Homo sapiens: one gene and its partners. The protein of the gene in region 7 purifies or fractionates together with the protein of the main gene of each other region. This does not show direct contact. Each region holds a gene or a part of one and is shown on either strand. Other genes may lie near its edges.

Evidence for each region.
Region 1: the proteins of APTX (region 7) and SERPINB12 purify together in Homo sapiens (affinity purification with mass spectrometry; one large-scale study listed by BioGRID and IntAct). This does not show direct contact.
Region 2: the proteins of APTX (region 7) and CTSH purify together in Homo sapiens (affinity purification with mass spectrometry; one large-scale study listed by BioGRID and IntAct). This does not show direct contact.
Region 3: the proteins of APTX (region 7) and ARG1 purify together in Homo sapiens (affinity purification with mass spectrometry; one large-scale study listed by BioGRID and IntAct). This does not show direct contact.
Region 4: the proteins of APTX (region 7) and A2ML1 purify together in Homo sapiens (affinity purification with mass spectrometry; one large-scale study listed by BioGRID and IntAct). This does not show direct contact.
Region 5: the proteins of APTX (region 7) and CSTA purify together in Homo sapiens (affinity purification with mass spectrometry; one large-scale study listed by BioGRID and IntAct). This does not show direct contact.
Region 6: the proteins of APTX (region 7) and SMTNL2 purify together in Homo sapiens (affinity purification with mass spectrometry; one large-scale study listed by BioGRID and IntAct). This does not show direct contact.

The regions. Positions count from the first base shown.
Region 1 is NC_000018.10:63,555,869-63,559,368, forward strand, and holds part of SERPINB12 (serpin B12), read left to right. Parts: intron 1-273; coding exon of another isoform or gene 274-291; coding exon 292-459; intron 460-2,483; coding exon 2,484-2,618; intron 2,619-3,500. UniProt on the Homo sapiens protein: Inhibits trypsin and plasmin, but not thrombin, coagulation factor Xa, or urokinase-type plasminogen activator. May play a role in cell differentiation.
Region 2 is NC_000015.10:78,931,547-78,935,046, reverse strand, and holds part of CTSH (pro-cathepsin H isoform a preproprotein), read left to right. Parts: coding exon 1-69; intron 70-2,588; coding exon 2,589-2,675; intron 2,676-3,005; exon of another isoform or gene 3,006-3,450; coding exon of another isoform or gene 3,451-3,500. UniProt on the Homo sapiens protein: Important for the overall degradation of proteins in lysosomes.
Region 3 is NC_000006.12:131,579,726-131,583,225, forward strand, and holds part of ARG1 (arginase-1), read left to right. Parts: intron 1-1,493; coding exon 1,494-1,653; intron 1,654-2,895; coding exon 2,896-2,990; intron 2,991-3,334; coding exon 3,335-3,439; intron 3,440-3,500. UniProt on the Homo sapiens protein: Key element of the urea cycle converting L-arginine to urea and L-ornithine, which is further metabolized into metabolites proline and polyamides that drive collagen synthesis and bioenergetic pathways critical for cell proliferation, respectively; the urea cycle takes place primarily in the liver and, to a lesser extent, in the kidneys.
Region 4 is NC_000012.12:8,853,621-8,857,120, reverse strand, and holds part of A2ML1 (alpha-2-macroglobulin-like protein 1 isoform 1 precursor), read right to left. Parts: intron 2,994-3,500; coding exon 2,872-2,993; intron 2,342-2,871; coding exon 2,290-2,341; intron 1,613-2,289; coding exon 1,529-1,612; intron 1-1,528. UniProt on the Homo sapiens protein: Is able to inhibit all four classes of proteinases by a unique 'trapping' mechanism. This protein has a peptide stretch, called the 'bait region' which contains specific cleavage sites for different proteinases.
Region 5 is NC_000003.12:122,331,748-122,335,247, reverse strand, and holds part of CSTA (cystatin-A), read right to left. Parts: intron 1-3,500. UniProt on the Homo sapiens protein: This is an intracellular thiol proteinase inhibitor. Has an important role in desmosome-mediated cell-cell adhesion in the lower levels of the epidermis.
Region 6 is NC_000017.11:4,583,180-4,587,328, forward strand, and holds the start of SMTNL2 (smoothelin-like protein 2), read left to right. Parts: upstream 1-1,349; 5' UTR 1,350-1,426; coding exon 1,427-1,825; intron 1,826-4,149.
Region 7 is NC_000009.12:32,984,629-32,988,128, reverse strand, and holds part of APTX (aprataxin), read left to right. Parts: coding exon 1-46; intron 47-282; coding exon 283-585; intron 586-2,098; coding exon 2,099-2,158; intron 2,159-3,271; coding exon 3,272-3,498; intron 3,499-3,500. UniProt on the Homo sapiens protein: DNA-binding protein involved in single-strand DNA break repair, double-strand DNA break repair and base excision repair.

The DNA of each region.
Region 1 (3,500 bases), on a different chromosome or scaffold from region 7:
AAACTCCTGCTATTTAAACCACTCAGTCTGTGGTAATTTCTTATGGCAGCCCCAGGAAACGAATTCACACTACTAAATGAAAATAGATCTCTGTCTATCAATATCAACACCAATATTTATATACAGGGATGATAATGACCTTAGTTTTCCAGTTCTTAATAGCATACTGAATAATTGTGCATGATTGTATTTCAGGTATGTAAAATAAAATTGTTTGTTCACTTATTTTCTTCCAATCACCATTTTCTCTTTCTCCTTTTTTTTTGGTTTTAGATCGTTATAAGTTTTACAATGGACTCTCTTGTTACAGCAAACACCAAATTTTGCTTTGATCTTTTTCAAGAGATAGGCAAAGATGATCGTCATAAAAACATATTTTTCTCTCCCCTGAGCCTCTCAGCTGCCCTTGGTATGGTACGCTTGGGTGCTAGAAGTGACAGTGCACATCAGATTGATGAGGTACGTGTCCACTAGGGTGCTACACAGGGTCCTAAACTCTGGGTCCACACTCAAAGTCAGACCCTAATCCCACTTAGGCAAGCCAAGGGGCTTATTGCACCCTGGGCTTGGTCAGAACCCATCCCTGTCTCTGAGTCTTTATTTGTATTTTCTCCATCTTACTTCCTCTTCGATCCTACCATTCTTAAAGTCTCACTTAAACTTGTACCTTCTTTAGGGTGCTCCTCAACTTCATGTCTGGCAGCTTTTCTCATTCATCTCTATCTTTATCTCTGTATGCATGTCTGTCACTCTTTTACTCTATGATTGCTAATACCAATATTGCTAGCGATTTTTAGTATGTGTATATGTCTTCTGTCTCACTCATTTCATTAAATAAATATTCATTAAGTACCATATATGGTTCCAGTGGCTAGAGAGCTTGGTGTCCTCCTGGACTCTTTCTCTCTCACTTTATACCACATTTGTTAGAAAATTCTGTTGGCTTTTCTTTTGAAAGATATCCATAATCCAGGCACTTCTCCCAGTCTCCTTGAGGTCTGAACCACAACCATCTTTTCTCACCTGGATACTGCAGCAACTTCCTGATGGGCTTTCCTGCTCTCACTGGCAATCTATCCTTTGCACAGCAGTCCAAGAGACCCTTTTAAAACCTGAGCCAGATTCTATTTCTCATCTGTTCAAAAACCTGGATTTCTTATTTCACTCATGATAGCAGTTCAAGTCCTTACAATGGCCCACAAGGATCTGGAGATCTGAATCCCAGATAAGCCCTGTGACTCCATCTCTCACTTTCATCCCTCCTCACTGTACCTGTCACATTGGCCTCCTGGCTTCCTTGGGTAAGTCATGCCCATCCTATCTTGGGGCCTTTGCTCTCGGTCCCTTTGCCTGATGGCTCTTTCCCCTGGTAACTGACCTCAGCTCACTTTCTTCTTCAAGACTTTGATCAGTGTTTATCTCCTATACGGGGCCTACTTTGACCTCCTAATCTAGTGCTGCATCCTGACCTCCAGACCATAAGGGATACTTTTGTAGGCACCTAATAAACATTTCTAGAATAAATAAATGAAGGTAATAAGAACAAATCCCCAAATAAACTACAAGTTCCCATGGTTGGCCTTATACTTCCTTGGATGTAGCACATAGTGCGGGGGTTATGCACAACTCAGGCTGTTTCCCCTGAATATGGAGCAGTAGAATTTATGGATTAAGACAGAATGTGTTTCTGGGGTCATTCTGCTTTATTCATCTACTAAGATTTGGTGTATTATTTTCTTATTCCATTAGCAAAACTTAGCTTTAGAGTGTGGTTTGCATCTTGCAGGGCAGAATTCAGATGTTCTTTCTTAGGCAGTTGAGGGCACCTGCTGACCAAATGGGTCTGAGTAGTGCAGGATATGACGCCTGTCTCCTACCTTTCTACCAGGCTCTGGATAACTTGTCTTTTGCTGTCCTCACTCCCTTGATTCATGTGAAACTCTAGATCAGCACTGTCTGACACAAACATAATGAGAACCACATAGTAATTTAAAATTTTTTAGTAACTGTATTGCAAAAGTAAAAAGAAACAGGTGGGACTAATTTTAATAATAATTTTTTAACCTAGTATATGCAAAATATCATATCCACATATCATCAATATAAGAATTTTAATGAGCTATTTTATTTATTTATTTTTTTATACTATATTCAAGATCTGGTGTGTATTTTGCACTTACAGTCAATTCAGATTGGGTATCTATGAAATGCTCCATAGTTACATTTAGCTTGTGGATACCTCTATGTTCTTTTAGTTTGGTTATATTTATTCATAAATGCTCTCCCAGGGTAGCGGTTGGTTCTTCTCCTCGATTCCACCTCCCAACCCAAGTACAGAAGCACCCACTTTCCTTTAAACTGTTGTTGATTGTTTTGTTTGACTATGTAATCATTGCCATTGTCTCATTATGAAATGTTTCTGAAGTTATTCAGGCTTCCCTCTGTTCATATTATCTGAAAGACCCCATCCCGTTATCATGCAGGTACTACACTTCAACGAATTTTCCCAGAATGAAAGCAAAGAACCTGACCCTTGTCTGAAAAGCAACAAACAAAAAGTGCTGGCTGACAGCTCTCTGGAGGGGCAGAAAAAAACGACAGAGCCTCTGGATCAGCAGGTGAACCGCCACCGTAGAAAACTCTTGCCTTTCTTTTTTACAAACTGCTTATTCTGGCTGTAGGATATTTGGTGATAGTTGCTTATCCCCAAATATTAGACTCTGGATACCATCAACAGCAATAACCTCATGTGATCTGTGATTCCTGAGTATGGATCTCAGATGTCCTTGGCTATCAGCTAGTTTCCTAAAGAGTAGGATCTGGTGTCTTCTGCTTATGATAAAGAAGCCTAGATCATCACTCTGTCCCTCATCTGCTTCTATAGGCCACAGGGCCCCAACACAGAGTATGGTCAAAGATAAAGGTGGTAAGGGGTAGGGTCAGCTGTGGAATTCTTACTGTCTCCCTCTATCTCTGCTTGTTCCATTTCGTGCTGAAATCTGCACTGACAGACAAAACTTTTATTGGTTGCCTCATGCCAGGAGGAGGAAAGATATTATCCAGGGTATGCATCCCCCTACTTTAGAAAGTTTAAGAGGAGGGTGGATAGATGATTGTCTTTCTTTCTTTCCTTCCTTCTTTCTTTCTTTCTTTCTTTCTTTCTTTCTTTCTTTCTTTCTTTCTTTCTTTCTCTCCTTCTTCTCTCCTTCTCTCCTTCTCTCTTTCTCTCTTTCTTTCTTTCTTTTTGTTTTTTCTGAGATGGAGTTTCGTTGTGTTGCCAGGCTGGAGTGCAGTGGCGCAATCTCAGCTCACTTCAACCTCCGCCTCCTGGGTTCAAGCAATTTTCCTGCCTCAGCCTCCAGAGTAGCTGGGATTACAGGCATGAGCCACCATGCCTGGCCTCTTTGAAATGTAAAGAAAATCAGAGTGTGTCAGTCTGAAATATAGTGAGCGTTGCTGAGTTCCCCAGATGTATTTTTCCTGGATGATCTTGATATAGA
Region 2 (3,500 bases), on a different chromosome or scaffold from region 7:
ACTGGTCCCTACCCACCTTCCGTGGACTGGCGGAAAAAAGGAAATTTTGTCTCACCTGTGAAAAATCAGGTATGCCTGGCAATCTCCATCCTCTCCCTGCAAAACGGCCACACTCCCAGACAATACACCAGGAAGAACAACTCAAAAGGTCCACAAAACCACCACAAGCACATCCCTGCCTCTGTTTCCTCTCGGCATCTCTCCAGCCCTCTTCCTTTGAGGGGCCAGGGAGGTCAGCACTTCTCTAGGCTGCTCTGGAGGATGCAAAAGTTCCTCTTTATTGGGCTAAAGTTTACTCCCTTCCTTCCCCACGCCCCAGATTTTCCCATTGGTCCCAGGTCTCTCCTACAGAGCCATCCAAAACGTTATGTTCCCTGTGCCCATCTGGACACCAGAACCCCATGCATCTCCTCTTCCCGCCTCCATCTTCTCCGAGCCACCAGGGTCCAGCCCCTGCCCTGGCTGGCCGCCTCCCTCTGGTTAGTCCATGTGTCATGCATCAGCAAGCTTCTCATGGCAGGGGCTGGCCTCCGTGGCCCTTGCTGTGGGGCACAGAGGGCTTGGCAAGGTGAGAGGCCCTGCCTTCCTCCATGGGGGAGCAGTCTGGGGGCATCTCAGCACAGGCCCTGTCCCAGAGAGTCTGGACCCTGCCCCCGCTGTTCTCCCGGCCTGCTGCGGCCCCTCCCCTAGCAGGGAACCTGCCGTGGCCTTCTTCAGAAGGATGCCGACCTCTGGACTCTAGGAAATATGAGGTGAAGGTTTCCTTCCTGGAAACTCCTGGCTTTCCATCGAAATTCTCCATGAGAAATGTTTTTTCACTTTCCAAAAAGCCATCCATGCAGCACAGCTTTAAAGCCTCCCGGGCTTGCAGTGTTCCTGGAGCCTGCCAAGTGCTGGATGTTTAACTAGCATCAGGAGCCAAAGCAAACCTCCCCTTGCAGCAGGAGGTGGAGTAGAAGCCTGCCTTTGCCCCGTGACATTTTTAGACCCTCTGAGAACCACATGACAATTCAGAGCAACACGTAACCTAAACCTGCCCACCACTTGGACAGGTGGGAAAGAGAGGCCCACCAAGAATTTTCCAAGTCCTCCTGTTAACTGATCCTGGGCCATCAGGCAGGACGCAGCCGGCTGGGCTAAGGGAGCGGAATGAGGTGCTTCCTGACGCAGATGTGTGCCGTCTCTTACTGTGGCCGCTGTGTGGGGATAGAGACGGACAGCAGCCACAGCGTCCATCAGCTCAGCACCCTCCTTGAGAGTTTCTCACTTTACAGAGGGAGAGCCTGAGAGGGAGGGTGGTTTGCCTGAGGTCCAAGGTAAGTAAGTGACAAAGGGGACTCAAAACCAGGCCCCTGCCCCAAGTCGAGCACCCAAGGGTCAGCCGAGCTCCGCCTCCTTCAGCAGTGAGCTTAGTCTCCCCCGAAGTGGCCACGTCTGCCTCGTTGACTGTCTCATGGACCCTCTCACCAGGCCGTCCCTCCCTCCCCCAGCTGAGAGAGATATGTGAAGGGAAGAGATTGGGTGAGGCCAGTGTCAACCTAGGGTGATGACCTGGGAGGCAGGTAGGGGACTTAAGAGACATTTCAGAAGTAGAAGCTGGAAGACTGAACCAGCAAGGTGAGGAAACAGAGATGAACCTGAGAGAAATCCTTACAGCAGCCACCAGCATTGTGCCCACGGGGGTGACTGCCTGACCAGCAGAATCTGACTTAACCCTGCTAGCGCCCTGCAAGCAGGAACCCTCGCCATTCCCACTTTACAAGCAATGAAGCCAAGGCTTCGAGAGGGGAAGTGACTTGCCCAGGTCACCCACCTGGTGTGTGGCAGAGCTGGGATGTGAACCAGGCAGGCAGGCTGCAGCCCCCCACACCTAATCCTCATGTTATTCTGGAGGTGTTGTGAATAAGGGGGCTAGGCAGCGGCAATGAACTGTTAGAAGGTGGGGAAATGGGTGGATGGGGCGGGTCCCCCAGAGTCTGGGGTGTCAGGGGTGTCTGGGTGGGGTTGTCTGGCAGTTAGTTGGATGTCTGAGCCTAAGTGGAGGTCAGCACTGGGCTAGGGTTTGGGGAGCTGTTAGTTTAACAGGACTGGGCAGAAGAGACTGGAGGTGGAAAGGTGAGAGAAGGTTCTAAAAACAGAACTTTGGGGCATCCTTCTGCAGGGAACCAGTAGGGAAAAGAGGAGCCAGTGAAGATCGAGAAGGAAGAGAGCCAGAAGACTGCAGAATGGGGTGGGGGACTCCAGGCCCTGGCAGAATGGTGGGGATTGGCCACCAAGAGGTGGTGATTGGGAGTCCACAGGCACTGGTCAGAGGCCACCTGCTGCTCCTGCTCCTTTGCAAGCCTCTCAGGACTTGCGAGGCTCAGAATGAATGGATCTGGAACAGGGCTTGCGAGCCTCAGAATGAATGGATCTGGAACAGGGCCTGCGAGGCTCAGAATGAATGGATCTGGAACAGGGCTTGGTAAACTGCCAAGGCACCTGGGGACTCGGGAGCTCTGGCAGGGTCAGCAGAGGAAGGCAGAAGGCAGGGCTGTCTCACGGCGTCCCCATCACTGATGTCCTCTGCTCTCCCCTGGCCTTTCCAGGGTGCCTGCGGCAGTTGCTGGACTTTCTCCACCACTGGGGCCCTGGAGTCTGCGATCGCCATCGCAACCGGAAAGATGCTGTCCTTGGTAAGAAATCAGCCACAGGCGACCCCCTGCGGAGGACACCCCATCCTGATGTGGGCCAGGCCTGGGCCTTTGGTTTCCCTGGAGCATTGGCTAAGGGTGCTGTTTCAGGTGGACCCAGATGCCCCAGCCTTGTGGACATCTGGCATGAGAATCTCAATTGATGCTTTTCCCGGGAAGGATCTGAGTTTATTAAGGAACCGGCCCAAGGGCTCATTCCTAGATGGATCTGGGTGGTCCTTAGCTTGACAGCCTGGAGCCTTCCCGGCGGAGGGGTTCAGAAAGGCGGAGCCTGCCTGGTGGGTAGCCAACTAGGAGCTACACCCTTCCCAGCAGCCTCAGTTGTCTTCATGAGGGAAGAGCCGGGACCTATGCATCCATCCCCTCGCCCACAAGAGACGGATGATGCCCCTGAAGGAACTATCCTAGCCCCTGCCTCTGTGGAGAAAGGAGGGACAGTGCACAGCCGGCCTGGTGATGCCATGAGGACCCTGGGTTGTGGACAGGTGGGGGTAGGGTCTCTGGCTGGGCCTGTTTCCCCCATCCTATACACCGCTGTGGGACCCCACACTCTGCATCGTATGGGCACACCTACGGGGCAGGGGTTTGGACCCAACAGCCCTTGCCCCCTCTCACCTTCCCTGGCTGCCCCTGCTTACTGAGCCCCTCCCGACATGTGCCAGCTGCTGGGCTGGCACTGCAGGACATACAGCAACTGTCCCTGCCCTTGGGGAGTTTATAATTTGGTCACCTTGACACAGCACTGACGGGGCCTCAGATGTGGCTCAGCCAGGGAGGCTTAGCGCCTCACGCCAAAGCCTTGACGGC
Region 3 (3,500 bases), on a different chromosome or scaffold from region 7:
TGGTAATTGTACTTCTCTAGCAACCATTTCAACCAGAATTGAAAATCTGGCACATTTCTTTCATGGCATCTTTTTTTTCCTTGTACATGATGACTTTGTTTAACGTGTGTGTGTGTGTGTATGTGTGTGTGTGAGAGAGAGAGAGAGAGAGACAGATGTCTATGTTGTGTTCTCACTCTACAGTGCAAATTTCCTTGTTGCTTCATGGGATGTGCATAAGCATCATAAGCATCAGTTTTTTAATTGCTGCATGATTTTTCATCAAGGGGTTACATCGCTATATACGTACATATTGCGGCATATTCAGGTTGCATTATAATTTTCACCATTACAAATAATGTGGCAAAGACCATTTTTGTGCATGAGCCTCTTTAAATATTTACTCCCAAGGCCTAGGATAATTTTACCAGAAAGGCCTGATTAGATCTAAAAGTAGAAACACTTCTATGGCTCTTGAGCAGTCAATGACTTCAGGTCTCCTTGGCTTCCTCTTCTAAAGCCAAACTGTCACCAAGGCCTCTGTATCAAAACTGCAATTGGGAAACTGAGGCTCGCTTTCTTTGTTAAGTGGAAATTTTAGGAATGGCACATGGCAAAAGACAAGAAACCTAAAGGGAAAACAAACGTCCACTGAATAATCCATACCTGAACGTTAAGGCATTATTGCTTCCACTTCGAGAATCTAAAAGCTCATGATTCTCTGAATGATACTTAAACATTCACAAATGGGAGAATACAGGCATTGTATAGTACTAGCTTGGTGCAAAAGTAATTGCAGTTTTTAAATGGCAAAACCGCAATACTTTTGCACCAACCTAATAAATCCTAACTTTTAACTTCTGTGCAAGATATCATTTATGTCTTCCATTCCAGCAAAATGTCTGGAGCTTGAAGTATTTGGGATGAACTTTGTTCCTGGTTGAGTGGGTAACTAGATGCATTGAATAGAATGAGTGAACACACGCCATACGCTGGCTGAAGAACTTGAGTAAGAACATGTAAGAACTTCTGAGTGATGCTCTCAAATTATAAAAGCTGGATTTTAAGAAAAATTGAAAGACTTTGTCATAATTCACTTGAGAGAATTAAGTATTTACCAAGAGAGATGAGTGTACAGAAAATGATCCAAATTTAACTCTGAGAATTGAACAGTGTCTCATGCTAAGGAATTTCTTGTGTGGCTAGTATTTTTATACTCATTTATTTTTTTGGCTACGCTCTAATCGTGGTTTTCTTACAAGGTGGATTTTGGGAAAAAAAATCACAGTTTTTTTAGTAATGCAATCGATGTAAATATAACTAGTTAGTGAGCATTAAGTGTAAGTTATGCTTTCTCTATTGTTTTAACTAATTGGCATCTCCAATTCAGAACCTATCAGAAATATCAGACACTGTGACTCAAAGGAAAACCAAGTGGGAGCATTGAGTGAATAATATGATGTATGTAGTGACACTGCAAACCTGATGTTCACACAAAATTTTTTCCCCAAAAGTTTGGCAATTGGAAGCATCTCTGGCCATGCCAGGGTCCACCCTGATCTTGGAGTCATCTGGGTGGATGCTCACACTGATATCAACACTCCACTGACAACCACAAGTGGAAACTTGCATGGACAACCTGTATCTTTCCTCCTGAAGGAACTAAAAGGAAAGGTAAAAGACTGGTTGGTACTCTAGTGCAATAGAATACTTTTTAGTAGACATTCAGGAGGTGGAAGGGAAATGAGAAACTCCATGTTATCTTATTCTTGGTGTAATCTCAAATCATTTTCTCTGCAGCCAATAAGCAAAGGGTTGGTTGATAAAAGGCAGTGAGGCTCTCTATCTCTGCCTTGCAAACTGACTTAATATATATTTTCTCTGCTAATTCTTAAACTATCCTTTTAGTAGGTGGGGCAGAGAGTAATCATTTATAAACAGGTCAGTGGAGGTTCAGAGGTTAACCAACTTGCCCAAGATATATGCCAAGCCTATAGTGAAGCAAGGGCTAGCACCAGGTCTCCTCATTCCTTCCTCTTTCCACTACATGCCACACAGTTCTGCATTCTTACTGAGTAGTCCTTCTATATCATAGAGGCTTTTCAAAAAAGAAATTTTAAAATTTCAGATATAATGGTTTATGAACTAATGTATTTACTGGGAGAAGCACCTATCTAAATCATAAGAGAAAGAACTATCTCCCTGCTCCCTAGAAACTCCTTTTCTAAAAGATGGAAAATAAAATGGCAGATTAAGATTTAATATTACAGCTTATAACTTTGTTGATATGCCATAGTTTGTTGATATGCCATAGTATATCAATAAAAAGTTTTTATTGATACAATTATAATATTTGGTCCTTATGATGATACAAGAGGTTAAAACCTCCTTATGTTAAATGCTCAGAAATAATGTCTTTTGAACTAATGACCAAGGGATGGGTTTATAAACTTGCAAAGTATCTGCCTAGTACATGGGAAAAACTAAACGTCCTGGAGGACAAAGCAGATATCATCATATTATCACATTAAGAATAACCAAAGGACAGGCCACAAATTTCCCTCAGCTGCTCTAGGCCATCCTCTGGATTAAGGACTTACTGAGAAAGGGAAGTAAAGAAGGAAGCTACCAAAGTAATGGGAGCACAATCGTTTCTTTATAGAGGAGCCCTGGGAAAGAAGGGCCCAGCAGGACTGGGGCACAAAGTAGGTAAATGCCAACTGGTTCAAGGCAAAGTCAAAGCAATCAAGGGGAGGCACACATCCTCTTCTTAATTGTGTATTATTTTTACATGATTTCTTCTGTATTTATATTCTAAATATAAGATATACGCAATCCAATATGTGTCTTTACCTTTGAATGTAGGATTTGTTCAAGAGAATCATACATAACCAAGTGAAAACATTGTAATTTTAGATTCCCGATGTGCCAGGATTCTCCTGGGTGACTCCCTGTATATCTGCCAAGGATATTGTGTATATTGGCTTGAGAGACGTGGACCCTGGGGAACAGTAAGCTTATTCCTTGATGTGATTTGCCTCCATTTTTGTCCCTTTGTGTGCTAGATATGCTTTACTGACCAACTCTATGAGAGAAAATTAAACATCAAGACACACACACACACACATGCCCACACACATATATTTATATACATGTACATACATATGTATGTATCCAGGCAATTAAATCTCAATTGACTTGCTGTTAAAAATAAATACAAATAAAACTATATTGAGTTAGGTTCATAGAACCTAAATGTTTTATATATTTTACTATATTTATATTTCCCTTAAAAGGAGACAGGCGGGCACAGTCAGCCTTATTAATTATAATTATCTTAATTTCTCTTTTATAGCTACATTTTGAAAACTCTAGGCATTAAATACTTTTCAATGACTGAAGTGGACAGACTAGGAATTGGCAAGGTGATGGAAGAAACACTCAGCTATCTACTAGGAAGGTAGGATTCTTTTGTGTGTGCACACATGTGTGTGCAACAGAAAAGGTTGCTACTGACAACC
Region 4 (3,500 bases), on a different chromosome or scaffold from region 7:
AAGGGACCCTCTAAGAGTTATCATCATTCACTGAACAAACACGTATTAGCTATCATTTAATAAGTACCTACTATGGGCCGGGCGTGGTGGCTCACGCCTGTAATTCCAGCAGTATGGGAGGCCGAGGAGGGTGGATCACCTGAGGTCAGGAGTTCGAGACCAGCCTGACCAACATGGACAAACCCTGTCTCTACTAAAAATACAAAAAAAAAAAAAAAAAAAGTACCTACTGTGTGTCCTGGGAAGACCACAGTAAATCAAACTCGGTCTCTACCCTCAAAAAAACTCACAGAGGAGCAAACCATTACAACACATTACAATTTTTATTCATTATAAACAATTTTAATACAGTACTACAATGTCATACTGGATATGTACGAGGTGCTAGGGGACACGGAGAGGCACATAAGCTATCTAAGAGAGTTCAGGGCTTTTAAGAAGACATGTCACTGAGCTGATGAGTGATGTGACAAAACTTATAACACTTAGGATCAATCTCTTAAGCTCCTCTACCACTGCATGTACGTTCCTCACCCTCCAAATCACCAAGTTTCTCTAAAACACAGTTCTGACACTCTTTTCCAAGTTGTCACTGACCCCTTCATATACTTCCCAAGCCAGTGAACCTGACATAAGTGACTCATTAACATCTGCATTGTAGCCAACAAGCTCAATTCAATCTATAAATGTGTCCTGAATGTCAACTATGTTGCAGGAACTGTACTAGGAACACAAAAGAAAAAGATGTGGCCCTTCCTCTTCAGGAGCCCCCAACACAGTGTGGAAGACAGATATAGACAGTGAACTCTAATACAATAAGATAAGTGCTATGTCAGACTTACGAATAAAATAGACAAAACAGAGACACTGTGACTGCAAAGGATCTCAATAGAGGGTGAGGGAGTAAAGAAAGAGCCTAACATTCATAGGGCTCCTACTACATGCTAGATATTGTGCTGGGGACTTTATATTGCATTTAATCTTTACACCAGTCTGAGAGGTAGGTTATTATCACTGTTTTACAGAAGAGGAAAGAAGGCCCAGAACTGTTCACTAACTTGTTCAGGGTCACATGGCTATTAAATGACAGGTTAGATATGATTTCTACGTTCATGCTTTTCAACCCACTTCCTCCCTTGCCCCAAACAGTAAGTGTGCTGCCTATTGTAAATATGGTTGTATCTTCCCTAAACTATACCCAAATTCCTCAGTTTTGAAAATGGTTGCTGCAAATATTCTGTTTTCCCTTCACCCAATTTATAGACTGTCTAAACCTAAAATCAAGCATCAGCGACCTTACCTTCTTCCTACCCTGACTCTCTTCCATTTTTAACTAGAGTACAAGTCTAATCCCATCTGTACTGTTGCCTACACTGTATTTCCCTCCTATATAAAATACGCTCTTTTTCCTTCATCACTTGTTATTAGTTACACTCTCCGGATAGGTCCGTATGTCCCGCCCCACTCCACACCTTTGCAGCCTCCATTCGCCTTTTCCTTTCTGAGTCAAGAATCTCTAACTGCTTACCCAGAACCGTAACATAAGCCTTGGTCGAGTCAGGAACAATGTCCACTGGGAGCTCCAGGGAGACAGATTCAGATGCCACCTTTCCTGTGAGATGCAGAAAAAAAGGTGACACAATAGAAGATGGGGAATGGCAGGGGTTCTCAAGACAAAATTTTAGAAGAACTTTCTATAATCCAGGGATTTCTGTACTCGGTGCTTTCTCTGGGATGCAGAAAGCACTGGGTACTATTCATAGTGATCTTGCTGAAAATAAATTCCACAGAGAGTCATCATCGTGCTGCACACTTTCTCTTCTTCCTCCTGCCTCCCAGTTAATCAGCCCCATGAGGAATGGCACTTCAGACTCTCCTATTCCTTCTGGTACTATGCATTCCTCCTTTTGCCTATGAAAATCTCCTGCTGCCGGGTGCAGTGGCTCACGCCTGTAATCCCAGCACTTTGGGAGGCCAAGGCAGGAGGATCACAAGGTCAGGAGTTCGAGACCAGCCTGGCCAATATGGTGAAACCCCATCTCTACTAAAAATACAAAAATTAGCCAGGCATGGTGGCATGTACCTGTAGTCCCAGCTACTCAGGAGACTAAGGCAGTAGAATCACTTGAACCCGGGAGGCAGAGGTTGCAATGAGCTGAAATCGTGCCACTGCAATCCAGCCTGGACGACGGAGCGAGACTCCGTCTCAAAAAAAAAAAAAAAATGAAAAGAAAATCTCCTGCCCTCTAAGGGAATTCTCACCACCAATCCTGCTCTGAGTCCACCCACCTTTTGGGCACAGCAATGAGCTGTGTGTCTTCTCCACCAGGACTCCCTCAGGCTGCGATGAAGAGAGACACAGATAAAAACAACAAAGATGAACATCAGGAGGGATGGCACTAAAGGAAAGGGAAGGGAGGCCCCTCGCTGTGCCCCCAGGGCTTCCCTCAGAACTGCAGACAAGAGCTTCTCACTGAAGCTCAGAAGAACTCTGCGTCAACCCAAGGATGGGCCCTTTCTGTAAAGTTCTTTCTGGGCAAGTGCTAGAGCCAAAGACACATTTAGGCAACTTCTAAGAGGCAAGATTGACAATGGGCTTCATGATGGGACGAAAAAGGCAGCTATTGATGAAGACAGACATTTTAATTAGGTAAACTAACATTTGTTGAGTGCCTATGAGGTGCCGGGTTTTAGGTGCTTTCATAGGCCGTGGGTGTGGATTAGGCAAATGTTCAAGGGGCCAGGGAAGGAGAAAGTTGAAGCTGCCTGGTTGGACTGGAGTATGGTTGCTGTGAGAGACTAACTCACAGCAAGACGAGATGCTGAGCATCCCTCGGTTGGTTGCTGTCTCTACCTCTGAAGAAAACTCACTTTGACGAGAACTGGCTTGATGAGCGTGTCACTTCGGCCCTTTTGGGGAACAAACCCCTTCTGGCCCCCACATGGTTCATTGCTGTCCAGAATCTTTGTACTAATAGTAAAGTTAATGTGACCTGAGAGAAAGAAGAAGGGAAGCCATTAGCCCTATTGCCAGAGGTACCAGTGAGGTCCATTCCCATTTGGATCAGCATTTCTGAAACTTTAATGGGGATCTTGCAACAGTGCAAACTCTGCTGCCATAGACCTGGGGTGGGGCCCATATTCTGCATTTCTAACAAGCTCCCAGGTGATGCCAGAGAGGCTAGTCCAGTGTGGTAGGTAACCTCTAAGGGCCCTCAGAGATCCCTGCATCCTGATATTTACATCCATTGAGTGTGAGCTGGATTGAGTGACTCGCTTCTGTTAAAGAGAACAGGGTGAAAGTAATGACTCTTCTGGGATTAGGTTACAAAAAAGACTGCAGCTTCCATCTTGGGTGCACCCCTTTTCTCAAACTGCTTGCTCTGGGGAAGACAGCTGTTGTGTGATGAGGCAGCCCAGCAGAGAGATTCATGTGATGAGATACTGAGTGAGGCCCCTAGCCAAAAGCTGAGGTCAAGAACTGTGTCCTTCAGTCTAGC
Region 5 (3,500 bases), on a different chromosome or scaffold from region 7:
ATCTTTGGAGGGCCATCATTCTGTCTACCATGGAGGGATATGGGTTGGGTTTAAATGTCAGCATTCCCGAACCCAGCATGAGAAGGGAGACAGTCCCAAATTCAATATGTAAACTTTTACTGAGCCCATCAACTTTCTGTACAGTGCTTCATTCCCACTCTCAGCTGGGCCTGATATGCAAGAGTCTACTATGAGCTCTTGACTCAGTTCCTGCTAAGTGTAAAGCTCGTCTTCTGCCGGGGTGGAGGACAGTGAGGGAGAAGGAACTATGGGAGGTCTCACTGTCCTTCATACAGATCAGTCCTCTTGCTTTTGGTCTGAGACCTTACTCCTGGCTACGACTTTTTGGTGTTGCTCATGCCTGCGCCATTGTGACGTTCTGCAGTGTGAATCTGCTTGCTTCTGGCTTAGACTTTCCCCTCTATGGGCTTAGCTTCTGTTTAGACTGCTCAGCATTTTCCATTGTTCATCTGTTTTCCAACTTCCAAAATTTTATTGGTATTTCTGAGGTGGTACTTGCCTATCTCCTGTTGTCTTTATGTCTGTGGATTTGTCCTTCAACCCCAATTCTTTTCTGTCTTTTGGAGGAAAAAGGATATAACTCTCTGTGTTGAATGTACCTTGTTTATTGAGAACTTGCTTTTATGCCCTTCATGAAAGCATTGCATGTCCATACAACTTCAATCAGGCCTCCAGTCCATCTAGGATTCTCCCAAGGCAGTCCTTCCTATCAGTGGGCAGGTTTTTTTTGTTTTTTGTTTTTTTAAATTTAAGAGACAGAATCTCCCCCTCACCCAGGCTGGAGTGCAGTGGCGTGATCATAGTTCACTGCAGCCTCGAATTCCCGGACTCAAACAATCCTCCCTGGGCAGATGTTTTGAACCTTTACTACTGATGCCTCAGTTTGAGTACCAGAACTGTTTTCAAAGATGTAGACATATGCAAACTGTGAGTTCTCAGACCATTTCTGAAAGGCCAAACACTCCACGGACCACCACTCAGTTCTCCTGTAACCTTGAGAATAGACGGGAAAAGTGTGATTGTTCTGTTGAGATGGAAATGAAATTTCAAAGTGGAGAAAGGGAGAAGACAAATAGTGAGGACAAACCAGAAGTGGGAAGAGCTAGGGGCAGGAGAGCGGAGAAAGGATGCACAGAGAAGTAGAGTAAGGAAACAGGTTATTGTCTTAGGGTCCCTTTCCAAAGCCTTTCAAAATTCCAAAGGAGGGATGGCCAGTACTTGGCACCAGTCAAGTTAGGAGCTGAGTTTGAAAGAGTTAATCTCTACACTAACCCCCAAAGTATCCATTTAAACCTCATTTTATGAATGGAGAATGTAAGGCTATGAGTTGAGCATGACTGCTTAAAGTTGAAAAATTATTCAACATAGTTATTTTAAAGTCCTTGCATGATAACTTATATATCTGATCTGTGTTCCTTCTGCTTTTCAGTCATGTTTCTTTTTAAGCACGTATCCTAAGCCAACCAGCCTTTCTTTTCTTTTCTTTCTTTCTCTTTCTTTCTTTCTCTTTCTTTCTTTTTCTTTCTTTCTCTCTCTCTTTCTTTCTTCTTTCTTTCTTCCTTTTTTCTTCCTTTCCTTTCCTTTTCCTTCCTTCCTTTCCTTTCCTTTTCCTTCCTTCCTCTCTCTCTCTTTCTTCTTTCTTTCTTTCTTTCTTTCTTTCTTTCTTTCTTTCTTTCTTTCTTTCTTCTTTCTTTTCTTTCTTTCTTCTCTCTCTCTTTCATGGAGTCTTGCTCTGTCACCTAGGCTGGAGTGTAGTGGCACAATCTCAGCTCACTACAACCTCTCCCTCCTGGGTTTAAGCAATTCTCCTGCCTCAGCCTCATGAGTAGCTGGGACTACAGGCATCTGCCACCACTCCCAGCTAATTTTTTATATTTTTGGAGAGATGGAGTTTCACCATGTTTGCCAGGCTGGTCTCAAACTCCTGGCCTCAGGTGATCCACCCACCTTGGTCTCCCAAAGTGCTGGGATTACAGGGGTGAGCCCCCATGCCTGGCCCTAAGTTTTTATTTCTATCTGTCCTAGAAATATATCCAAATCTTTAACTTTTCCATCGTATCTGTGTAATCCACAAATGCAGAATTTTCCATGAGAGAGGGGATTTAAAAGATCTGGTTTGTTTCTTGAAGTGTTCTGGCACCTGTCAGACTGTGGACCTTGATTTCTGGTTCACTCTACTTGTAACTTGCAGCCTCCCTCCCTCTTCCCAGTAAAATAGATTTGCATGGTTTAATGTTAGATGACATGGACCTGAGTGATGAGATTTGAGCTGAGGAGCAGGGAAAGGGGCAGAGTAGGGGAGCTTGTCAGTGAAACTTAAGTCTCAGAAGGTAGCTTGGTGCTGAAAGACTCCCCAGGATGGGCACTAGGAGGATGCAGGCCAGCTGGGAACGGTGGTGGGAGACTGGCGGTGAACGGACACATCTCCTGCTGAATGCAGTTGGCCTTCACCTTTCTCAGTCTGCCACGCGTGATGGTGACGGGAGCTCAAGGAATACAGTGGAGGTTTGTCGCTTGGTCTCCAGCCGGGGAGGAGGCTACCAGGGAGAAGCACCTGGTATAATGCATTTAACCCAGAGTTCTTCAAGCATTTCTCATTGCTACTGAGCATGAATCTTGGTGAGGTGTTTATTCTCTGAGATCTGAGGATTTGAGCCATGAGGCACCCAACACTCAGGCTTTTCCCCTAATCTGTAGTCATTCTACAGAAACAATAGGACTGTGCCTAATTTAATAGAAAATAGATAGAAAGATATTGATGGCAAAGTGGATGAATTACATTTGGGGGAGATTTAGAGAGTAAGGAAGGAGAGTTTGAATAGTAACATGAAAGGACAGTAGGGCCAGTAAGATGTGACTTGTGGACATTTATTGTCTAAGTATGTTTTGAAGGAAGAAGGAAGTATGGGACAAGGCATTGAGGATGCAAGAAATGAAGTCACCTGGCTAAGAGAGGAAGGACTGGCTGAAGAGAGGAGAATAGAGTCTAGGGAGGAATGAGATCCAGCAAGAGATAGGGTCAGCTGGGGCATTTTCTTACCAGAGATCTGCAATCTCCTAAGACAGGTGTTCCCAACCCCTGGGCTGCAGACCAGTACCCATCCATGGCCTGTTAGGAATCGGGCTGCACAGCAGGAGGGGAGCAGTGGGCCAGTGAGCATTATGGCCTGAGCTCCGCCTCCTGTCAGATTAGCGGCAGCATTAGATTCTCATAGGAGTGGGAACCCTATTGTGAACTGCATGCAAAGGATCAAGGTTGCGTGCTCCTTATGAGAAAATAATGCCTGATGATCTGAGGTGGAACAGCTTCATCCCAAAACTATCCCCTCCACCCCATCTGTGGAAAAATTGCCTTCCACAAAGGTACCAAAAAGGTTGGGGACAGCTGGCCTAAGAAGAGTAGGAACTGAGACATCCTGCTGGAGGGACCATGGGGGTGGGAGGCAATGAACAACTGAAGAGAGATTTACATTTGTGGG
Region 6 (4,149 bases), on a different chromosome or scaffold from region 7:
GGAATGCACACACATGCTCACACATATATGCAGCATGCACACCTTTTGGCATTTGCCTTTTTCATGAAATAATTGCTGGAAGGCTCCTTGGATTAGGTAACCCAGCGTTCCTTCCTGTCCCCTTGGGGCTGGGGGCGGGGGAGAGAACCAGCATTTAGCATCTGTCAGGCTGCTCCAGTTCCTTTGGGGCAATGATGGCCAGTCCAGGAGGGTTTGTGGGCTCCAAACAACCTTGGGAGCAGAACATGATATGAACAAGCCTTTCAGACTTCTCCTTCCTGCAGGTCAGCTGGCTATGCATGCCCAGCCTCTGGGCCTCTTTCAGGCAGGCCAGGCTTGGGAAAAAGAAGGCCAATTAGGAAAGGTTTTTTGCACAAAGGAGGATATGTTCTCATTTTTATTTTAAATCAGCTTTATGATATAGCGAAAACTTAGAGTTAGCTTTGCCCATCATCCCATCGTCCTAAAGCAACACCTGTTTCCCTTCTTCCCTTTTCTGGTGATGGTTTGGGGTGTGCATTTGGAAGGGGGAACTATCTGGGTTCAGCCATAAAGAGCATTGAGAAGGAATAGGGGTAAGACCCCTGGCCTACGGGTAGAGGCCAGTGACTGAGACTCTCATTGCGGGAGGGGGCGATTAGTCGCAAAGCCGCCCATTCCAGGATTTGGAGATGCAGCTCCAGCACACCCTTCTTTCTCTGTCTGCCCTTAGCCTCTCCAGGATCTCCTAACGGAGGCCCCTTGGTGGGTCGGGAGCCTCTACCGACCACTAGTGGGAAGGGCACGAAGATCTTGCTATACAGAGTAGGACTGGGAGGGGACAGCGCGTAGTCGCAGAGTCAGGGAGGGGACCTCACCACCTGTCTCCTCCCTGAGGTCTTAGAACAGATACAAGAAATTCCAGGCGAAGGTCCCACAGGTGAGCGTGTGCCTGCGAGAGCCGTGGCCGCTGCATAGGGAGGGCCCCGCGGAGTGGGGCGGCAGCTGTGGGAGCTGTAGGTGTCCCCATTAGCCCGGGAGTCTCCGCCCCCGGAGGAACCTGGGCCTTGCGGGTGAGAGTCCCGAGCGAACGCGTCAGCCCGGGTGTGCTCTCTACGGTCCAGGGGGGCCAGGGCCTTCTTCGGGTGGGCCCGCCGCCCCTCCCGCAGGCCGCACGCCGCTCCTCCGGGGTCGCAGGGCTCAGTTAAGAGCCGGGGAGGGGAGAGGCTGGGCGAGCTCTCCCTCCGCACCGTCCCGCTGGGCTCCAGGGCAGGGGGGTGTCCCGGAGTCGTCCCCGGCTCCGCCCCCGAGGCCCCGCCCCGCGCCCGCCTCCCCGGCAGCCCCTCGAGCGAAGCCAGCCACGGACGGCCAGTCGCGGCCCGGAGCTGCGGAGCTCGGATCTTCTCCCCCGTCTGGCCCGCTCTCGACCCGCGCGCTCTGCTGGGCCATGGAGCCGGCCCCCGACGCCCAGGAGGCGCGCACTGTGCGCGAGGCGCTGGGCCGCTACGAGGCGGCGCTGGAGGGTGCGGTGCGCGCGCTGCACGAGGACATGCGGGGGCTGCAGCGCGGCGTGGAGCGGCGAGTGGCAGAGGCGATGCGCCTGGCCGGCCCCCTGGCGCGCACGGTGGCCGACCTGCAGCGGGACAACCAGCGGCTGCAGGCGCAGCTCGAGCGCCTGACGCGCCAGGTGGAGGCGCTGGGCTTGGCCAGCGGGATGTCCCCGGTGCCCGGCACTCCCGGCACGCCCAGCCCCCCGCCCGCGCCCGGGGTTCCCGACCGCGCGCCCCGCCTGGGCAGCGCACGCTTCGCCAGCCACGCCACCTTCTCGCTGTCCGGCCGCGGCCAGGTGAGCCCGGGGGAGCGCGTGCGCTGGCGCCAGGGAGTGGGGCTCCGAACCGGGTGCCGCCCCTTCGCCCCGACTGCCTGCCTCTGCTCGCGTCTGCGGGGTTGGGGCCTTCACCGGCCGCTCGGACTAGGTGATGGGGGTCCTGCCGCCCCTCCGGAGTTGGAGAGGGCGGGGGGAGGACCGCTGAGCCTGCCAGCTGCACCTGTCTTGGTCCTCCGCCCTGTTTTAGAGCCAGGCTCTGTTTGCTCAGAGTCCTGTCTCCCTCTCTCCTCTGTCCCATGACATCAACGGCTTGGGCGCCGAAGTCCGGCCCCTGACTGTTCAGCACTGCCTGGAGCCACGCGGGGCATGTTGGAATGGTCGACACCCCTGCCTGACCCCCACCCTCCATTCACGCTCCCCTGCGTTGCCGCTTCACTGAGGCCTGACGGCTCTGGTTATTGATTAACTCAGATTGAGAACTCAGGCCCCTGGATGGGTGGGGAGGGGGGTCGAGGGGGACGCGATCAGCAGCGGCTTTTGGGAACTCTCCATCGCAGGGGGTAAATCCCTTACCGTGAAGGGAGAGAGGTGGAAACCCGCCTTGAGCCGTGTCTAGATTCCTCGGGTCAGTGACTAGCCAGAGGCCCACACCACGTGGGGATAGGGCGGAGGCCGACGTGGACCAGTCACTACCTTGCGCATGGGCCACCCAGAGCAGTTAGAATGTGTCCATGGTGTGTGCAGTGGCCCTTGGGTGGGATTTTCCATCCTGATCAGGCATGTGCTCTCGGGTTGGGTTCCCAGGATCTGGGGCTGTGTAGCCTGCACCTGCTCCCTCCTTGGTGCAATCCCTGGGGCTCTCAGATTTCCCGCTGTGGGCTGGGCTGGACCCTAGGGGGCCTGGAGGAGGGTATCAGATTGGGCCTTCCCCCTGGAGGTCCCATCCAGGGTGGGAGATGGCCCCAGACCAAGTTTGGGCAGCCAGAGATGTTTTGCTCCAAACACAGTAGTTAGCCCCTTCTCAGTGGGTATCTCAGCAAGGCTTTGTGCTGGGGGCCTGGGGCTTGCTGCTACTGGTGCAGATGAGGGTGGGGTGGGGGCTGTGCAGGAAGCCTCAGAAAGGCTGAAAGTACTCACTGGTGAGTGCAGCCTCGAGGTATGCGAGTGGAGTGGGCAGTGGCGAATGCCCCTAGTGTGCTGGGCAGAGGAGTTGGGCTTTGCCCGGCCTGTAAGAAGTTCTTAAACATGTCATGGTAGCAGAACCCGGGAGTGTCCCAGTGCTCCGTGTGAAATGTCTGGAAATGTGGATACACTTAAGTCTGTCTTATGAACATGACACTCTACGTGACCATGGTCTAAAATCACCACTGTGAGCTCACACGTGCCTCATCAACTGTGTCATCGGTTGTTTCTGAGGTTTTATTTGAACATGCATTTGCTATTTGTCTGCTCATAGCAGCAGCTGTCCAAATTAAAAAAAAAAATGTCAGGTTCACATATACATGTAGATGTGTGTGTACACACAAAGAGAGAGAGAGAGAGAGAGAGAGAGAGGGAATTCTCTCCAGTCGTGATTTTTGTCAATGGAGATTAGCCATTGTTCACTGGCACCAAGCTAGTCCACTAGGTTAGGAGTTGGTGGATGAAGCTCAGGATGAGGGTCTTCTTTGTGTCTGGCAAGCCCTCTTCGGGGTGGATGGAAGGTGGAGGGTGGCTGGAGGTGGGTAACTTGATTGTGATGGTCCAAGGAGAAAGGAAAGGTCTGAGCTGGGCCGTGGGCCTTGGTGTGTAGAGGGGCTGCCTTGGACAGGGTTTCAGAGGGGGAATGAGCAGATGGGGTAGTCTCAGAGGGGAGCTCTGACTTGGGGGACTGCTGGGTCACAGATCTGGGGTGAGATGCTGGGTTCCACCCGGGTCGTGCTGAACATGAGGGGACTATGGGAACTCCAGGTGAAGCTGTCCCAGAGCAGGTGGATTCATGGATCTGGTGCTCCACACAGTGAGCAAGCCTGGAGATTAGGGAGCTCTCTGGGCAGAAGCAAAGAGTCTGAAGGAATTAAAAACCAGACCGGGGAACTGCCAGGGAGTGAGGAGGACCTGAGTGCACTCTCAGCAAACCAGAGAAGGAGCCCTCCTGGAAGAAGAGGCTGGGGTCAGTGAAGATGCGTCGGCCTGTTGGGGAGTGAAGATGGAGACCCAGGCACCCAGGGGCATGAGCAGCAAGGGTAGCTGAGCACTGTGGGTGGAACATGGCTATGGTCCCCAGTTGGGTTAGAGGCTCTGCACCCCTTGAGCCCTGGCTCCCGGGGCCTGAGGCAGCTGCCGCTGGGCTGACCCCCGAA
Region 7 (3,500 bases):
ACAGTTGAAAGCAGAGTGTAACAAGGGATATGTCAAGGTAAAGCAGGTAGGTGTATTTATAACTTGGAATTTTATACTCGATGATTTTCTTATGCTGTTGACTTTAGAGTGTCTGTGCCAGCCAGTGAAGGCTTCTCTGTCATGTATGGAAGTGATGGAGTAATATAGGTGAACATAAGGCAAGGTGCTTGGCATATAGTAAGTGGTTAACATAGCAGTGGCTATCTTACTGTAGGTGCTGTTGCTATTATTATAATTATTTTCTGATTGTTTATTCCATAGGTAGGAGTCAATCCCACCAGCATTGACTCAGTCGTAATTGGGAAGGACCAAGAGGTGAAGCTGCAGCCTGGCCAGGTTCTCCACATGGTGAATGAACTTTATCCATATATTGTAGAGTTTGAGGAAGAGGCAAAGAACCCTGGCCTGGAAACACACAGGAAGAGAAAGAGATCAGGCAACAGTGATTCTATAGAAAGGGATGCTGCTCAGGAAGCTGAGGCTGGGACAGGGCTGGAACCTGGGAGCAACTCTGGCCAATGCTCTGTGCCCCTAAAGAAGGGAAAAGATGCACCTATCAAAAAGGTGAGGGTAGTGTGATTGGTAGATGATGTGGAGAAGAAATGAAATATAATGACTGCTTAATTGTTTTGTACACTTTAAAGTTCAGAAATGCGTGAGGGGTTATTAACCATGATGAAAGAGTCACTTGTTTGTGGCGTGAAAATCATTTGGATGAATGTTCCTTTATGTGCTTTTTTCTTAAATTCCTGAGGTAAGCCACCTGAAGGTACAACAATAATGGCAGTGTGTACTTAACATTGAACAACTAAAGTGGATCAGTTGTTTATGCATCTATAGAAGGTTTTCATAGATCATGTAATTCATATGCTGATGTCAAAGTGGAGAATTGGTCAGGCTGTAGCTGCAGTGAGAGAGGGCAAAGAAGGTATGACTCATACTCTGGCATTTCTCGCCTTCATTTAGAACAGCCAGCTGTGAATATAGGAAGGCTGGCTGGGTGCAGTGGTTCACGCCTGTAATCTCAGCGCTTTGGGAGGCCGAGGTGGGCAGATCACTTGAGGGTCAGGAGTTTGAGACCTGCCTGGCAAACATTGTGAAACTCCATGTCTACTAAAAATACAAAAATTAGCTGGGCCTGGTGGTACACACATGCTTGTAATCCCAGCTACTCGGGAGGCTGAGGCGGGAGGATTGCTTGAACCTGGAAGGCGGAGGTTGCAGTGAGCTGAGATTGCACCACTGCACTCCAGCCTGGGCGACAGAGCGAGACTCCATCTCAAAAAACAACAACAATAATAAAAAACAGCTGGGTGTGCTGGCTCACGCCTGTAATCCCAGCACTTTGGGAGGCCGAGATGGGCAGATCACCTGAGGTCAGGAGTTCGAGACCAGCCTGACCAACATGGCAAAACCTAATCTCTACTAAAAATACAAAATTAGCTGGGCGTGGTGGTGCATGCCTATAATCCCAGCAACTCCAGAGGCTGGGCAGGAGCATCGCTTGAACCCGGGAGGCAGAGGTTGCAGTGAGCCGAGATCACGCCATTGTACTCCAGCCTGGGCAACAAGAGCGAAACCCCATCTCAAAAAAAAAAAGAAAGAATATAGGGTCGGGTGTGGTGGCTCACGCCTGTAATCCCAGCACTTGGGGAGGTGGAGGCCAGTGGATCACCTGAGGTGAGGAGTTCAAGACCAGCATGGCCAACCTGGTGAAACTCCGTCTCTACTAAAAAATACAAAAGTTAGCTGGGCGTGGTGGTGGGCACCTGTAATCCCAGCTACTTGGGAGGCTGAGGCAGGAGAATCACTTCGGAGGTTGCAGTGATCACGCCGCTGCACTCCAGCTTGGGTGAGACAGAGTGAGACTTTGTCTCAAAAAAAAAGAGAATATAGGAAGGCAATGGAGTGAAGCAGAGTCAAGTGAATCTTGTTTAATTCTCAAAAACTAAGCTTATTTCCAAGTTTAGTTGTGCTATCACACAGTATTAACTGTTGCCAAATTTAATTATTGGCATTTGTAATTTACATTGCTTGTTTTTTTTTTTTTTTGTTTTTTTTTTTGTTTTTTTTTTAGGAATCCCTGGGCCACTGGAGTCAAGGCTTGAAGATTTCTATGCAGGACCCCAAAATGCAGGTCAGAATACAATTTTGGAATTTCAGTACATTTCATGTTGTAAATGACCACTCCACAGAGGTCTTAATTACAAATGAAATCAAAGGATATCAGTCTTTCTGAATGAGATTCATTTTATTGGGCTGTTCTGTGAGAACAAGAGGCTTTTCACATTGGCAATAAAGTAGCAGCTGTCATTGTTTGGAGAGAAAGCTGAGTTCTTCAAATGAATATCCCCTCTGCCTTGTGCCTTTTAAACTTCTGGGTACTTTAAGGGAAGTTGCATTAACCTTAGTATGGTTCCTTTCAGGGGAGCATCAGAGATAATACACTGTGACAGTAGTACTGTGCTGCCCTGGCATTAACAGTCAGACATCCCTGTAATCCCAGCACTTTGGGAGGCCGAGACGGGAGGATCACCTGAGGTCAGGAGTTCGAGATCAGCCTGACCAACATGGAGAAACCCTGTCTCTACTAAAAATACAAAAAATTAGCTGGGCATGGTGGTGCATGCCTGTAATCTCAGCTACTCGAGAGGCTGAGGCAGGAGAATCACTTGAATCCGGGAGGTGGAGGTTGCGGTGAGCTGAGATTGCACCATTGTACTCCAGCCTGGGCAACAAGAGCGAAACTCCATCTCAAAAAAAAAAAAAAAAAAAAAAAAACAGGCATCATCCTTGAGGAGCCTTTGAGTCCCACTTCAATTATATTCCTTGTTGACAAGGGGCAGGTCTAATAGGGCTCACTGGAACCCACGTGTACGTGTCACACAGTCTGCCATGTTGGAGTGGAGAAGGATGCTTTTGAATTTATGTCTACAGAGATTTTACATCACATTCTTGGGAACTATTTTGTACTGTGCATCTTCTGTGTATTCTGTGTAGTGTGGTGGTTGAAAACAGACTCTGGAGTCAACCACATCTGAGTTGGAATCCTAGATTTCCCTCTTAGGAACTATGACTTGTGCAAGACACTCAACCTGTCTGAATTTCAGTGCTCTCCTCTCTCAAAACTGGGCTATTAAAACCATTTGCACAAGACTGTGGGAATTAAGTGACTTAGTGAATATAACAACCAGGCACACAGAAGATTCTTAGTAGATGTCTGTTTCCTTCTCTTGTATCCCTCTGCTAGGTTTACAAAGATGAGCAGGTGGTGGTGATAAAGGATAAATACCCAAAGGCCCGTTACCATTGGCTGGTCTTACCGTGGACCTCCATTTCCAGTCTGAAGGCTGTGGCCAGGGAACACCTTGAACTCCTTAAGCATATGCACACTGTGGGGGAAAAGGTGATTGTAGATTTTGCTGGGTCCAGCAAACTCCGCTTCCGATTGGGCTACCACGCCATTCCGAGTATGAGGT